Linked DNA regions of Homo sapiens: region 2 is linked to region 1. A link means that fine-mapping ties the variant in region 1 to the expression of a gene that starts in the linked region. Tissue or cell type: sigmoid colon. Region 1 holds a variant in brackets; the other region holds the start of a gene. All regions are shown on one strand. Distances are between the middles of the regions.

What was found. PIP is the estimated chance that this variant, and not a neighbour inherited with it, causes the effect.
Region 2: it holds the start of RNF123, and the variant in region 1 is fine-mapped to the expression of RNF123 in sigmoid colon (GTEx, PIP 0.97).

What each region holds. Positions count from the first base shown.
Region 1 is chr3:50,594,963-50,603,063 of GRCh38, reverse strand. It overlaps HEMK1 (HemK methyltransferase 1, mitochondrial release factors N(5)-glutamine), which reads right to left. Exons shown (of 11, transcript NM_016173.5): 11 at 6,898-8,101. Among named protein-coding and RNA genes, the nearest start is that of CISH, 13 kb to the left of the region's middle. RefSeq lists an enhancer at 337-4,017. The variant G/A (reference allele first, on the strand shown) is at 4,905.
Region 2 is chr3:49,686,313-49,694,413 of GRCh38, reverse strand. RNF123 (ring finger protein 123) reads right to left here and starts at 4,857. Exons shown (of 39, transcript NM_022064.5): 1 at 4,808-4,857; 2 at 3,167-3,284; 3 at 2,905-2,989. The coding sequence starts at 3,248. It overlaps MST1 (macrophage stimulating 1), which reads left to right and starts at 4,940. Exons shown (of 18, transcript NM_020998.4): 1 at 4,940-5,816; 2 at 6,517-6,664; 3 at 6,746-6,858; 4 at 6,936-7,050; 5 at 7,129-7,265; 6 at 7,347-7,467; 7 at 7,612-7,730; 8 at 7,933-8,101. The coding sequence starts at 5,723. RefSeq lists enhancers at 5,027-5,586, 7,103-7,816, 7,817-8,101 and a silencer at 7,429-7,548.

The DNA.
Region 1 (8,101 bases):
GCCGGGGGCCTAAAGGCCTAGAGGCCTGACTACGAAGGCAGGAAGACTCAGGGTCTGTGCATAGGACATCCCAGACTTCTCCAGCTCTCATAAAGGCCCTCTTCCTCCAGGAGAAGTAGGCCCTGTGCAAGCCTGGGCAGCCTTTGACACCAACCTGCTAGACCAGTTTTAAGATAAAGTAGACTTGAGCTTTGCCGGAAATTCAACAGCCTCTCATGGTGGATGTGTCCTCCCTATCCCTCCCTGGCTCCCGTGGACCACCCAAGGGGTCACTCCAAGAGTCACTCTGGGGCAGCAGGCTGGAGTTCCCACGTCTGAGACTCAAGCTAGAGGAGGTCCCTGGAGGTTTGATTTTGGTCAGAATGCAGACCTCAGAGTGGTTGGAGAGTGGCTGGGCCTGGATGCTGGGGAATGGGGAGTGAATGGAAACCGATGCTCATCTCTGAGCAGGAGGAGACACAGCAGGCCCAGGGAAGGGGAGCTTTTCTGATGTGGTCAAAGCTTCCTGCTCAGTGGAAAGAGAGTTGCTTCCATGGCCCGGGCCTCATTAAAACAGGCAGGGCCTCTGAGGGCTATGGGAACCTAGGATTGCCATGACTCCTCCAGGCAGCCCTCCAGGACTGTCTCACCCACACAGACCCTACTAGTGAGATGCTTGCGCTGGCACCGATGATGCCCTGATGACATGCCTGGTGGGGAGGGTGGTATCCAGCAAATGCTCCTCAGGCAGAGTCCTGCTCCAGGGACTCTCCCCACACCCAGCACCCATGAGCCAGATGGGGCCCTTCCTGTCACCAGAGCTGGGCTCCTCCACCAGAGGTGGGGATTGCACTCATAGTCCAGACTGGGCCAAAGCTCTGTTCTTCAAAGTGCCTCTCAGCCCTCAGCCTCCTCCCAGGAAGCACTTCACTGCTCCCACCCCCACCAGCCCCACATCAGTGACATCACTTGTGTGTGTGTGTGTGTGTGTGTGTGTGTGTGTGTGTGTGTGTGTGTGTGTGTGTGTGTGCGCGCGCACGCGCGCACGCATGCTTGTGCTGACCTTTCCACTTGGCCAACATTCCTTTGTTTTTCTCAGCTCCTTCCAGTGGATGGCTGTGGGAGGAGGAGCTGCTGGGAGAGTAGGTTCTCAGGAAACATTTCCCCCAAAGCCCCAGGGACACGGAGCCCACGAGACATGAGAAAATGAGGCTTAACCAGGAGGAGAGGTGTTCCAAGGGCAGTTTGAGGGGTGTGGGTGAGAGAAAAGGAGAGATCCTGGCAGAGATCACTGTTAACCCAGGTGTGTGCATGCCTGCGGGGGCGTGCTCCCGGGCATCCTTGCCAGATCAGCACCATCAGCCTGGCACCTAGTGGGCAAGCTGAGCTTATAAGGGCAGGCAAAGCTGGGTGGCCCTAGGAAGTTGCTGCATCTCGCCAGGACATATATGGCTCAAAGTAGGCCAGGGTCCTGGGTTTGCTGTTGTGGGATCAATTCACTTTCTCTCCTACCCAGAGGTGCCTGGTTGGGAGCTGTGGGCTTTGGGGGCAGGAGCACCTCCTCCCAGCACCTTGACAATCACCCCCTTTCTCTTCTGGGTCTCAGTGAGTAACTAGGGTGGGTGCTAGCTTCCAGAGGATCCCTGGGCCTTGTGTAGGGCAGAGAAGGCCTGGCGTGGGCACCCCCCACCCCCAGCCTGGGTGAGGTGTTTTCGCCAGAATTGCAGCAGCTGGGGCTGGAGGCCTCTTCCCAGGAAGAGCAGAGCGCCGCTTCCAAGAACTCAGAGGAGGCCGCAGGCGGGAGGGGGAGCGGGGGAGTTAATTTTAAACCACACTGCCTTCAACGCTTCTCAGGAACTGGTTGCTCAACGTGATCTGGCAGGTCCCAGGCGGCTGGGCAGGCCTGGTGCCAGCTCAGAAGTGGCGGGTGGAGGACACGCCCCAGGGGGAGGCCTGGTGACCTTGAGGGAAGTAGGGCCCTGTCCTTGACCACTTACCAGGGCCTGTCCCTCATTCACCCGACCCAACTTTGCTGGGGGGTGTGAGGTGGGGTAATTTATTCAGTTCTAACCAGGAAAGGTAAAATTATAACAGGATTAATAACACAAGTGTCATGGCCTTCCAAGGGCCCCAAGACGATCCCATCCCCCTTCCCTGCTCAGAACCTGCCTGTCCTGCACCCTGGCCTGTCCTCTGGAGGTTATCTGATGAGGGCCTATTCTGAGGGTAAGGCCTGTGCTGATTCTCTATGGGATGGGACCCTGGTGCCAGGCTAGTGGGGGGAGTAGAGTCGGGGGGTGGAGGGTGGCATGTGGCAAGCTGGTGGAAGTTCTGGACCAAGGGAATGAGCCTCCTTCTTGTGCAGGGAGAACTCATGGGCCCGCACCCCATGGTTGACTGCAGTCAAAGCACCTGCATTTCACCGACCTCCTGTTGGAGGTGTTGACCACCCTAGTGTGGCCAACCACTCCCGGCTGACAGCCTAGGCCCACCTCCCAATGTTTGGTCCATGGAATGTTCTACCTGCAGAGGCACCTCCCAGTGCACCCCCTTCCCCCACTACCCCCACTGGCTGCCCTCTGAGACCCCAGCAGTCTGGGCAGAGCAGGTCTCAAGTTCTAGGAAAGGATCCTAAGCAAATGCTGCCAAGAGCTGCAGTTCTTGGAACCAGCACTGCAGGGCGAGGGGACACTTCCTGGAACCTGCTGGCCCTTCCAGGGAGTGAGGCTCAGAGGACAGCCAGTGACCTGGGGTAAGTGGGGGGAGAGGGTACTGAGCCCTTAGCTTCGGTCTCTGCCTCCAGGAAGCCCTCCCTGACTGCAGGTGCCTCCTTAGACTCCTCCATCCCGGTGCTGGATCTGGCATGACCTCTGAAGTGCCCGGTGTCCAGCCTGGCAGAGTGGACGACGAGAAACAGGTGTTAGTAGAGAAAAAAAGGGCATGTGTACCTATGGAGGCAGCGTGTGGGTGTGGGTCCACAGTGAAAGCAGGAGGTTAGACAGGAGTGTCCTGCCTAGGCCAGTGAGCAGCCGGGGGTGTGAAGCACCAAGGGAGAGTAGGAGGGAAAACAAGGTGGGGTCAGCAGTGCCAGGCCCTGCTCACTGAGCCCCCTTTGCTGGTGGGCAGCCTCTGGCTCTAGTCACTCCTTCAGGACAGCCTTGTCTCACCCACACTTCCCTGTCCCACAGCAGGGGGCCCAGGCCCCAGCTTCAGCATCAAGCCACCCAGGACATGCATCTGGCCTTTTGGAAAATAGCCTGGAGAATGCAGAGGAGAGGCTGCAGTGAGTGGGCACTGACAACTGTCTGGGACTGGGTTGAAGTCTGGCCACATTTCAAGGGAATGGCCATGAGTGTTCCCATCACAGGATCCCAGGAGCAGCATTGTTAGAGCAGGGGCCTGGAAGTATGGCTGAGGGTGCTGAGTGAGCAGGTCAGGGTCACATAGCTGGGAGGCACTAGGACAACCTTTTAACCACTCATGACCCCTTTACCTTCAGAATGGAGAACCTCCCCTGGCCAAGGCTGGACGGGGTGTCGGCAAGAACTTGCCTCTCTCCTCCCACCCTCAGGTCACTCCTTGGCCCTCACTGAGCACAGCGCCAAGCGTGCTACCCATCCACCCCAATGTCACAGAGAAGATGGGGACAATGCTGGCGTTAAGAAGGGCTAGGACCCAGTGGGTGGGTGGCAGCTGTGAGGTGGGGCTATGGCAGAGAGGTCCTCCCTCCCCTGTAGGAGGGCAGTGGGGCAGCCCAAGGACACAGGTCATTGCTGTGCTTGTACTCTGCAGTGGCCAGTTCTCAGAAGCTACCTGGGGCAGCTGGCAGTGGGTGGGAGTGCTGCATTCTCTGTCACTTAGAGGCCTTGATGCCTGCACCCAGGTCAGGCTGGCTGTGGCTGGAAAGAACCTGCTGTGGATGAAGTTGACCTGGGACCCACGTGACCTGAGTGAAAAGAGCTATGGGTTTGCAGGGGACACCGGTGCCCTGCTGCAGGTGGTTCTAGAGCTAGGTATCCTGCATCGTGACTTGAGCAAGTCATGAACCCACTCTGAGCCTCAGTTTCCCACTCTGTTTTTGGTGTTTGGTTTGGTTTGGTTTTGAGACAGGGTCTCACCCTGTTGCCCAGGCTGGAGTCCAGTGGCACAATCTCGGCTCACTGCAGCCTCTACCTCCTGAGCTCAAGCGATCCTCCCACCTCAGTCTCCCAAGTAGCTGAGACTACAGGTGTGTGCCACCACACCCCACTAATTTTTTGTACAGATCTAGTTTCACCATGTTGCCCAGGCTGGTCTGAACTCCTGGGCTCAAGCAATTCTCCTCCCTCGGCCTCCCAAAGCACTGGGATTACAGGCGTGAGCCACTGCACCGGGCCTCCACCTCTACTTTGGGGACAATGTTATCACTTGCCTTATGGAATCGTTGTAAGGAGGAAATGTGTAGACTTGGTGATTTTTGTTTCTCCTCGGAGTCTTCCCCTGGATCCCAACTCACCCCTCCAGCTCCCACTTCACCATGAGCCCATGGAGACATGAGCCCCAGAAGAGCTCTTTCTCTGGTCTCTATTGCAGCAAGAAGTACCTGTGGGCACACTGGAGCATAGGCCTTGATGTTTGCAGTGCTCCAGGCAAAAGGACAAGTGGAGGCTCACATACCAGAATCTAAATATTAAACAACCATAAATCAAGCTGCTAATGAAATGTGTTCTATCCTCCTACTGAACAAATAAGCTTTCATAGGAGTAAAAACATCTGTAAATCTACAGTTTTTATATATCTGAAAGTCAGCAGATATCCAAAATGATGAAACTTAGTAATTATCACTCATGTCCAGGTGTTCAGTGACCTGAGGTTTAAGTGAGAGAATGAAGACTTGCCTGATGCCTAAGATATTCTGTATTTATTCTGTAACATTGATTCTCCTC[G/A]TCTTTAGTCTAGTAAAATGATTGATTATGTTGTTACAGTCAAGACTTCTACACTATTACTGTTCTTTTCATAGTAATGATTAAAAAGATTAAAATAAGGCTGGGCATGGTGGCTCACACATGTAATCCCAGAGCTTTGAGAAACCAAAGTGACAGGATTGCTTGAGGCAGGAGTTCAAGTTTACAGTAAGCTATGACTATACTACTGTACTCCAGACTGGGCAACAGAGCAAGACCCTGTCTATAAAAAAAATAATAATTTTTAAAAAGACTAAAATAAAATATTGGCCAGGTGTGGTGGCTCACACCTGTAATCCCAGCACTTTGGGAGGCCAAGGCAGGTGGATCACCTGAGGTCAGGAGTTCAAGACCAGCCTGGCCAACATGGTGAAACCTCATCTCTACTAAAAATACAAAAATTAGCCAGGCATGGTGGCACACACCTGTAATCCCAGCTACTTGGGAGGCTGAGGCAGGAGAATTTCTTGAACCCAGGAGGCAGAGGTTGCAGTGAGCCGAGATCCACACCATTGCACTCCAGCCTGGGTGACAAGAGTGAAACTCCATCTCAAAAAAATAAATTAATTAATTAAATAATGAAATAAAATATTACATTCAAAGAACACAAAAATATGTTAAATTAAATGAGATATGTCAAAATTTCAAAAGATGATATAGTCCAAAAAGTTATTGTTATTTTAAAATTAATTTAATTATTATTATTATTTTTTGAGACAGGGTCTCACTCTTTTGCCCAGGCTGAAGTGCAGTGGTGTAATCTTGGCTCTCTGTAGCCTTGACCTCCTGGGCTTAAGTGATCCTCCCACCTTAGCCTCCCAAGTAGCTGGTACTACAGATGTGTGCCACCACACTCCACTAATTTTTTTGTATTTTTTGTACAGATGGAGTTTTGCCATGTTTCCCAGGCTACTCTCAAACTCCTGGGCTCAAGGGATTCTCCTGCCTCAGCTTCTCAATGCGCTGGGACTTCAGATGTAAGCCACTGTGCCTGGCCTTAATTTTAATTATTTTTTTTGGCGGGGGGGTCTTGCTGTGTCACCCAGGCTAGAGCGCAGTGGTGTGATCATAGCTCAGTGACACCTCAAACTCCTGGGCTCAAGGGATCCTCCCACCTCGGCCTCCCCAAGTAGCTGGGACGACAGGCACCCACCAGCACACCTGGCTAATTTTTGTATTTTTTATAGAGATAGGGTTTCACCACATTGCTCAGGCTGGTCTTGAACTCCTGAGCTCAAGCGATCCACCCATTTCAGCCTCCCAAAGTGCTGAGATTACAGGCGTTAGCCACCACACCCAGCCTAAAAAGTTATTTTTAAAATAATCAAAATCACTTAGTAAAATTGAGGCAAAACAAACTATAAGTTATACTTGTATTAAAATTTAAATTAAGATTTAAAACTAAAATTTTACTTAACTTTTTGAAATTGTTATTAAATATTGCTAAATGTTTTTATGAAAAGAAATCTTAGCAGAGTGTGGTGGCTCACACTTGTAATCCCAGCACTTTGGGAGGCCAAAGTGGGAGGATCGCTTGAGTCCATGAGTTTGAGACCAATCTGGGCAACATAGTGAGACCCTTTCTCTACAAAAAATATTTTAAAAATTAGCCACACATGGCAGTGCATGTCTGTAGTTCAGCTACTTGGGAGGCTGAGGCCAAAGGATCACTTAAGCCCAGGATTTCGAGGCTGCAGTGAGCCATGATTGTGCCACTACACTCCAGCCTGGGTGACAGAGCAAAACTCTTCTCAAAAAGAAACAGAGAGAAGAAAAGAAATCTTCACTATTCACAGTTAAATTCTCTGTGAAGGCTGAAGTAGTGTTTGCTCTGCAGTTAGCAAAAGCACAACCTCCATGCATTGCCCTAGAACCTGAACGGTGCTATCATGACAGTGGGTGTTTGGGTTTGTCTCACACTGCATCAGCACTGAGTGTCAAATCAGTGGTTTGACAAAATGGGAATGCACATGAATTCTTTAATCAATTTATTGGAAATTGATCACTTGTATGTTTGTGATACACTCTAAGGAACAGGCCACAGGCAGATTAGAAGAGAGTGGTAACAGACAAAGCACAATTTCCAGTAAGTGATATTGGAGCAATTTGGAAGGAAAAAAAAGTGCAACGTCTACCTCACACCTTCCACCATAAATTCTAGATGGACCAAATATTAAACATTAAAAATGAAATTCTAAGAGTCCTTTAGAGCACCTGCCCTGGAGTCCCAGCAGTATCAATCCCAGGTGTGGAAACCTCTTCCTTTGCGTGGCTCCCCTGCGTTGTTTGCAGGAGAGGTCTGGAGGAAAGAGAGTCACCCCAGAAATACATCGATGCCTATATAGTGTTGTCTCTCTATCTTGGGTTTTTTCCTGCAGAAACCACTCTGAGACAAGCATCCAAATGCAAATAGATTATTTGGGAAGTAATGCCAAGAAGCACCAGTAAGGTATTGAGAGACAATTCCCCATGGTTCTCTCCTATTTCTGCACACTTGCCAGTAGAGGCACTGGTTGCCCTTGTTCTAAATAATCTTTACAAGGGTGATTATTATAGTGAGTAACCTTAGAAGATAGAGGTAGTATCTCCCTCCAGAGCAAAAGGCAGATTTTATTGTCCCGTATACTAAAGATAACATCTCCCACCTGGGCAGGTTTGCTTGCAGCTTATTATAAAAGACGTGGGTCCCCTAAATTCAGCATGCAGTTTCTCCACCGTAGTGCAACCCAATGCATATGCAGGCATCACCGGGCCATCATCACATCACTCTGTAGGAACTGCGGTTCAGGGAAGTGGTGCAAGAAAATGCTTTTACTCTGTCTACTGCCGTTACTGTAAACAATAATCTGTTGTCTGTTTCTGAACCCAGAGTTCTGTGCCTTCTGCCATGATCCTTGAGAATATGATAGACTATGATAGACTAACTTGTTTGCTTCAAAGTCGGATAAGCCGGGCGCGGTGGCTCACTCCTGTAATCCCAGCACTTTGGGAGGCCGAGGTGGGCAGACCATGAGGTCAAGAGATTGAGACCATCCTGGCCAACATGGTGAAACCCTGTTTCTACTAAAAATACAAAATAGCTGGGTGTGGTGGTGCGCACCTGTAGTCCCAGTACTCGGGAGCCTGAGGCAGGAGAATCGTTTGAACCTGGGAGGCAGAGGTTGCAGTAAGCCAAGATC
Region 2 (8,101 bases), 910 kb after region 1:
GTAAGATAAATTGATAATGGGGAAAAATACTCACGGGATAACATTTGATGATAAAAATAGGATGCAAACTTCTATAGACTTTTGGAAGTGAGGGACATGTCCATTACCTTGATGGTAGTGATGGTTTCACGGGTTTTATATATATGTTAACACTTATCAAATTGTACACTTTAAGTATGTGTAGTTTATTGTATATTAATCATAGCTCAATAAAAACGTTTTAAGAAAAGAACTGAAGGTGATAAATTTTTTTAAAGTTTTCTATACAGCATAATCTGAACTACATACATTATAAGATAAACAGACATGAAGTTAAAAAGCTTCTGCATAGCAAAGTAAACGATCAACAAAGTGAAGAGACAGCCCACAAATGGGAGAAAATATTTGTAAACTACCCATCTGACAAGGGATTAATAACCAGAATATACAAAGAACGCAAACAACTCTATAGGAAAAAAACTAATAATTCCATCAAAAGATGGGCAAAAGATACGAACAGACATTTCTCAAAAGAAGACATACGAATGGTAAACAGGCATATGGAAAGGCATTCAACGTCACTGGTCATCAGAGAAATGCAAATCAAAACTACGAGATATCATCTCACACCAGCTAAAATGGCTTTTATCCAAAAGACAGGCAATAACAAATGCTGGCGAGGTTGTGGAACCCCTGTATGCTGTTAGTGGGAATGTAAATTATAATAGTGCAATCACTATCGAGAACAGTTTGGAGGTTCCTCAAAAAACTAAAAATTGGTCAGGTGCGGTGGCTCATGCCTGTAATCTCAGCACTTTGGGACGTCGAGGTGGGAGGATCACCTGAGGCTAGGAGTTCGAGACCAGCCTGGCCAACATGGCGAAACCCCATCTCTACTAAAAATACCAAAATTAACTGGGTGTGGTGGTTTGTGCCTGTAATCCCAGCTACTCGGGAGGCTGAGGCAGGAGAATTACTAGAACTTGGGAGGCAGAGGTTGCAGTGAGCCAAGATCATGCCACTGCACTCCAGGCTGGGCAACAAGAGCAAAACTCCATCTCAAAAAAAAAAAAAAAAAAAAAAAAAAGGCCAGGCACACTGGCTCACGCCTGTAATCCCAGCACTTTGGGAGGCCGAGGTGGGCGGATCACGAGCTCAGGAGATCAAGACCATCCTGGCTAACACGGTGAAACCCCGTCTCTACTAAAAATGCAAAAAATTAGCTGGGCATGGTGGCGGGCACCTGCAGTCCCAGCTACTTGGGAGGCTGAGGCAGAAGAATGGCATGAACCTGGGAGGCGGAGCTTGCAGTGAGCTGAGATTGTGCCCCTGCACTCCAGCCTGGGCAACAGAGCAAGACTCCGTCTCAAAAAAAAAAATTTTTCAAAAAAAAAAAAACTAAACTAAAAATTGAGCTACCATATGATCCAGCAACCCCACTGCTGGGTATATACCTGAAAGAAGGGAAATCAGTATATCAAAGAGATATCTGCATTCCCATGTTTGTTGCAGCACTGTTCACAATAGCCAAGATTTGGAAGCAATCTAAGTGTCCATCAACAGATGAATAAATAAAGAAAACATGGTACATATACACAACGGAGTACTATTCGGCCATAAAAAAGAATGAGATCCTGTAATATGCAACAACATGGATGGAACTGGAGGTCATTATGTTAAATGAAATAAGCCAGGCAGAAAAAGACAAACATTGCATGTTATCACTTATTTGTGACAGCTAAAAATTAAAACAATTGAACTCATAGAGGCAAAGTACTGGATGGTTACCAGAGGCTTGGAAGGGTAGTATAGGGCTTGTGGGGAGATGGGGATGGCTAATGCGTACAAAAAAATTGAATTAATGAGACCTATCTGGTAGCAGAACAGAGTGACTATAGTAAATAATAATTGTACATTTAAAAATAACTAAAAGAGTATAACTAGATTGTTTATAAGACAAAAGATAAATGCTTGAGGGGATGGATACCCCATTTACCATGATGTGATTATTACGCATTGCATGCCTGTATCAAAGTATCTCATGTACCCTATAAATATATATACCTACTACATACCCACAAAAATTAAAAATTAAAAATGTAACACAAAGAAAGAAACAGAAAAGAATCACATTTGAATAGTCATGTTAAAATAACAAGATAGCAGGTGCTTTTCCTTCTTTTTTTAGAGACAGGGTCTTGCTCTGTCACCCAGGCTACAGTGCAGTGGCATGCAGAGGCCAACTCACTGCAGCCTCAACCTCCTAGGCTCAAGTGATCCTCCCACATCAGCCTCCCTAACAGCTGGGACTACAGGTGCACACCACCATGCCCAGGTAATTTCTGTATTTTATTGTAGAGATGGGGTCTTGCCATGTTGCTCAGGCTGGTCTTGAACTCCTGGACTCAAGCAATCTACCCACCTTGGCCTCCCAAAGTGCTGGGATTACAGGTGTGAACCACTGTGCCTGGCCCTCTAAGTTTCTGCTAAAATGTACTTGTAACTTTTATACTGACTACACTTAAAAGTATTAAACTTGTAAAGAAAAGGCCCTGGAGGAGTTTGTTCTTTACAAGGTCAGTCAGAAGCTACAAGGGGCCAGGCTGGGGCCAAGGTGAGGGCAGGTACATGCAGGGGCAGATGCTGGGTATGGAGTAGGTGCCAGGTGCTAGCTGGGCATGAATGTGCACCCGCTCCCTGACCTCTGCTCCCTGACTCTCAGAAGGAACTAGCACTGCCTGGAGACAGGAAGAAGCAGAGTACGGAAGGCAGACTCTCTGGCCAGAGATCTCGCAGCCAGGAGCACAGTGAGAACAGAGCCTAAGCCTATCTGTCCAGAGCCCAGGCTCCCTTTCCCTACAACTGCAGCCTCCTTATTCTGGTCTGGCCCAGCAGAGTGAGGAGGGGCCACCCACCCAGCCATACCTGCTGGTGGCTGCTGGGGGTGCATGTTCAGAAGAGGAAAAGATGCGGTTCAGGTAGTCATTCAGCAGCTTCTCCTGCACAATGCCTGAGCCACAAGTCAGAAGGGAGAAAAGGGCCACATGATCAGTGCAGCTCCTGGCCCCTGCTGGCCCCAGAGACTTCTGGTCCTAGGCCAGCCACAGGTGCAGCAAGGCCTGAGGCCTTTGTCCCTTCCTTCTCCTCCCAACAAGAGGAGCCTCCTTCCTTCCCTGCCAGCTCTTACCTGTGACCCTGGATTTCTCAGCATCTGAGGTCAGCCTATAGCTCTTGCGGGAGAAAGACATGCCGGCCCCCTTGGATGCCATCCTTCATCTCTCATGGGCAGCCAGTGGTCCTGGGGGCTGAGCCAGACACAGAGCCTGTCTACTCAGGGCCAGCCAGGGGCCCCCACACCTGACCTCAGTCCTGCCATGGCAGGAAGGCTTGGGAGCAGGTGAGGCCAGGGGCATGCACACTAACACATAGGGCAGGGGAATGCAGGGGCTCCCAGCTTCCTACACAGGGAGGGTAGCCAGGGTCTAGGCCCATGTAACAGGGACCACTTCTTGTTCTCCAGTGTCCCTGTGCCCAGCACAGGGCTGGGCAGAGAGCAGGTACTAGATATATTTTTGCCGAACCATAACAAAATGTCTCAGCTCTGTGGAAATCAGACCAAAATGTCCAAAGTGAGGTGTCCTAGGGGCAGAGCCCCTGTATCCATCTCAGTTGTAAGCCATACTGAGTCCAGCTCACAACCAGAAGCGACAATCCTACACATTCCCCCAAGTGCAGACCACCACTGGTCTGGTCATCTCTAGCCATAAGTCCCACTTACTCCCCACAAGGCTGGAGCCTCTTTCCTCAGCCCTGGGTTCCTCCCTTCTTTTATCCATGGTCCTGATAGTTTCACCATTCCCACTCACACATGTGGCCTCCCACCTCATCCAAGCACCACCCTTGCCCAGCCCTCATGGCAAACTCCATTGGTCCTCCTAGTGCATCTATCCCTCACATCATGTTGCTGCTGCAGCTGCTCCAGAACCTGCACTGAGTCCCTGGTGCTGGCCTCACTGATGTGTAGCGGTGCTGTCCAACACAGCAGCCGTCATCCACATGAGGTTACTTAAATTTAAAGTTTTAAAAATTAACAATTCGATTTCTCAGTTGCCTTAGCCACATTTCAAGAGTTCAATGACCACATGTGGCTAATGGTTACTCTGTTGGACAGCACAAAGGTAGAACGTTCCCACCATCATATAAAGTTCTATTAGACAGCGCAGGTCTAGAGTTTCGCTCTGCAGCACTGCCTTAGCCAGCACTCCCTACTCTGCAGTTCAGTCTCTTATCTCACCCCAAACAGACCCTCTACTCCCGCCACAAACCCTTGTGGGTCTGCACCACGCCTGCTCCTCGGGAAGGTGATTTTCCCGACCTCGGGCCCTCGGTGGGCGTCCATGATCGGTGCCCCTTCACTACCAGAGTAGTTGAAGATCTGATTAAACTCAGTCATTCATTTGATGAGCAGACCTTCCAGACACCCGGAGTGGGCTCCGGGAGTCAGTTGCTGAGGACCCAGGTGAGAGGCGGACCTTGTCCCCGCCCGGGGACTCCCTGTCACGGCTATCCCGTCCAACCCCGCCGGGGTATCCGGACTCAGAACTGAACCTACTCCGTCTGGGAGCCCAAGGACGGCGAGGGCGGCGCATGGCTCCCCCAAGTCGCCCCCGCCTGGCCCCAAGCTCCACAGGACCTGCCAGACCAGCTTCCGCTCGGAGTTTCGCACCCAGATCCCTGCGCTGCAGGTGCCCTCGCACTGGACTAGCCCGGACCGCGAAGGGAATAGCCGGAACCCGCCAGGCTCAGAGCCCTGCCGCCCCTCACTCACCCGGAGCCTCGGCCGCAGCGACCCGGCTCACAACATCCGCCCAACCTCTTGGCTACGGCGTCCGTTCAGGGCCAAATCACGCGCACGCTTGCGCGCTGAGCCTCCAGCCGCGCACGCGCACTGGCCCGCGCCCAGCCTCCGCTAGGGGACCCCCTCCATGGCTTCCCACCGGGTTGTTCCAGGCCTCAGCTTCGCCGAAAGGCCTCACCACCTCCGACCTCCGCCTGCTCTGGGGATGCTCCCAGCCCTGCTGCGGCAGAACGCGACATGCTAACCGGAATCCCTAGGCCGCCTGTCTCCTACCCATACTTAGAGGCCCCGCTCAGACGGTCCTTAAAACGTCTGAAAGGCCGTTCCTGCCAGAGTCCCTGCTACCTGTTACCTCCACCCCTATTTAGTCCTAGTGGACAGCCTCGCTCACCTTCCCTGGGATGACACTTCTGGCGGCTGAGATGAGCGAGCCTCTCTGGGCTCTGCCGCCGGGTGTGGGCTGACCTGCCTACAGCTGGGGCCTGATAAGGCAGCAGCAAAAGGGTGGAGGGGAGGCAGTGTTGAAGCTGGGGCAAGTAATTTTCCCCAATTTACAGGGAAAAACCGAAATTCAGAAAAGTTTAATGTCACCCAGGGGCTGGAGCCCAGACCTCTGGCAGCTCTCACTTTCACAATGCCCTTGGGCTGACTAGGCTGCAGAGGGGTTTCACCCCAACCCCAGGGCACCTCAAGTGTCCCCACCAAACCTTCCTAACACCTGTCCACTAAGCTGTACTAGGCCCTTGCAACTGACCTATGGGACCTGAGGCCTGGCCCCTCATGGCTCCTGTCACCAGGTCTCAGGTCAGGGTCCAGCAGGCCCTGAGCTGACGTGTGGAGCCAGAGCCACCCAATCCCGTAGGGACAGGTTTCACAACTTCCCGGATGGGGCTGTGGTGGGTCACAGTGCAGCCTCCAGCCAGAAGGATGGGGTGGCTCCCACTCCTGCTGCTTCTGACTCAATGCTTAGGGGTCCCTGGTAAGTGCCCCCAACCCTGATCCCCATCTGCCTTCAGGAGGGGGTTGGCCCCATTCTCCTATTCTAGGATGAGAAAAAAGTCGGGGAGCCAGAGGCTCAGTGGGCATGGGGCAGTGACCTTGCCCTCTTGAGCACAGCTGGGAAGCCCTAGGAACACATAGACATTGCCCACTTAGGCCTCTATTAGCACGTCTGCTCTAGCACTGAAGCAGTGTCAGGACCACACAGATGCACGCACACAGCAGGCAGTGACCCCTCCTGAGCCTGATCTACCCCTCTAACCTAGCATATGCCTTTGTGCAGGTGAGAGCCCAGATTTGGAGTCTGAATGCCTAGCCAGGGCCCCTGGCTGGGTAATGTGATGGCTCTGAGCCTTAGCATTCTCATTTGAGAGATGAGGTGGGGCAAGCTTCATCACCCACTGCTCTCACAGAGCGTATGTGTTAGATCTGAGCCCGGTGCCTGGGCCACTAAACAGAGGCACCGGTGATAACTACCAAGTCTGGGCCTGCTTCCCAGGGGAAATTTTTTTCACAAGTATCTGTGCAGGGGGCTAGACTGGCCCTTGAAAGTGCATACAGGGTCCATCCCAGAAGCCTTGTAGCTTTGATCCCCTGAATGAACAAAGTGTGGACATGCCAATACACATTACTGACATGTATGCCCACCTGACCTGCACCCACTCATGCCTACTCTGCAGGGCAGCGCTCGCCATTGAATGACTTCCAAGTGCTCCGGGGCACAGAGCTACAGCACCTGCTACATGCGGTGGTGCCCGGGCCTTGGCAGGAGGATGTGGCAGATGCTGAAGAGTGTGCTGGTCGCTGTGGGCCCTTAATGGACTGCCGGTGAGTGGCCACTGGGCCTAGATAAGACTGGGGGCAGGGAAGCCTGGGCTGTGGCGTTACCCTGTGCCTTCTTCTCTCCAGGGCCTTCCACTACAACGTGAGCAGCCATGGTTGCCAACTGCTGCCATGGACTCAACACTCGCCCCACACGAGGCTGCGGCGTTCTGGGCGCTGTGACCTCTTCCAGAAGAAAGGCAAGTGGGGGTGGAGAGGGGCAGGGTGGGAGACAGGGGACCTCAGCCCAAGTTGATCTTCTGTCTCTTGCTCCCAGACTACGTACGGACCTGCATCATGAACAATGGGGTTGGGTACCGGGGCACCATGGCCACGACCGTGGGTGGCCTGCCCTGCCAGGCTTGGAGCCACAAGTTCCCAAATGATCACAAGTGAGACAAACACCTTCCCTCCGTCCCGGCCTGGGGCCTTCCCCCAGCACACACTATAGTGATGCTCTGGGCCCTCAGGTACACGCCCACTCTCCGGAATGGCCTGGAAGAGAACTTCTGCCGTAACCCTGATGGCGACCCCGGAGGTCCTTGGTGCTACACAACAGACCCTGCTGTGCGCTTCCAGAGCTGCGGCATCAAATCCTGCCGGGAGGGTAAGCGGCGCCGGGTCAAGCTGGGAGAGTGGAGGGACAAGCCCACGTCCATCCACGAACCCACTGGCTCTTTGTCTCCAGCCGCGTGTGTCTGGTGCAATGGCGAGGAATACCGCGGCGCGGTAGACCGCACGGAGTCAGGGCGCGAGTGCCAGCGCTGGGATCTTCAGCACCCGCACCAGCACCCCTTCGAGCCGGGCAAGTACGCGTAGGCGGTATCGGCGTCCTGGGGGCCGGGCTAGGGAAGGTCCAGGACTCCAGGGGCAGGGCTCCGTGTAGGGCAATTGGGCGGGGCCAGATAAGCCAGAGTCCCAGGGTCTTGTTCACGCCCCATTACCGCCCCCAGGTTCCTCGACCAAGGTCTGGACGACAACTATTGCCGGAATCCTGACGGCTCCGAGCGGCCATGGTGCTACACTACGGATCCGCAGATCGAGCGAGAGTTCTGTGACCTCCCCCGCTGCGGTAGGCGGCGGGGACCAGGCCTGGGAGGGTACCTGGGAACCTTGGGGAGGGGCGTGGCTTGGCCGGGGAGGTAAGAGGGGCTGGGCGTGACCTGAGAGCATACCCCGTGGAGTACCGTACACCTGGGAAAGGCGGGTTTGGTCCCAGCCCCAGAGGGATCTCAGCTCTCGCTCGGGGCCCGACCTATCTCGGTCCATCTAAGGGTCCGAGGCACAGCCCCGCCAAGAGGCCACAACTGTCAGCTGCTTCCGCGGGAAGGGTGAGGGCTACCGGGGCACAGCCAATACCACCACTGCGGGCGTACCTTGCCAGCGTTGGGACGCGCAAATCCCGCATCAGCACCGATTTACGCCAGAAAAATACGCGTGCAA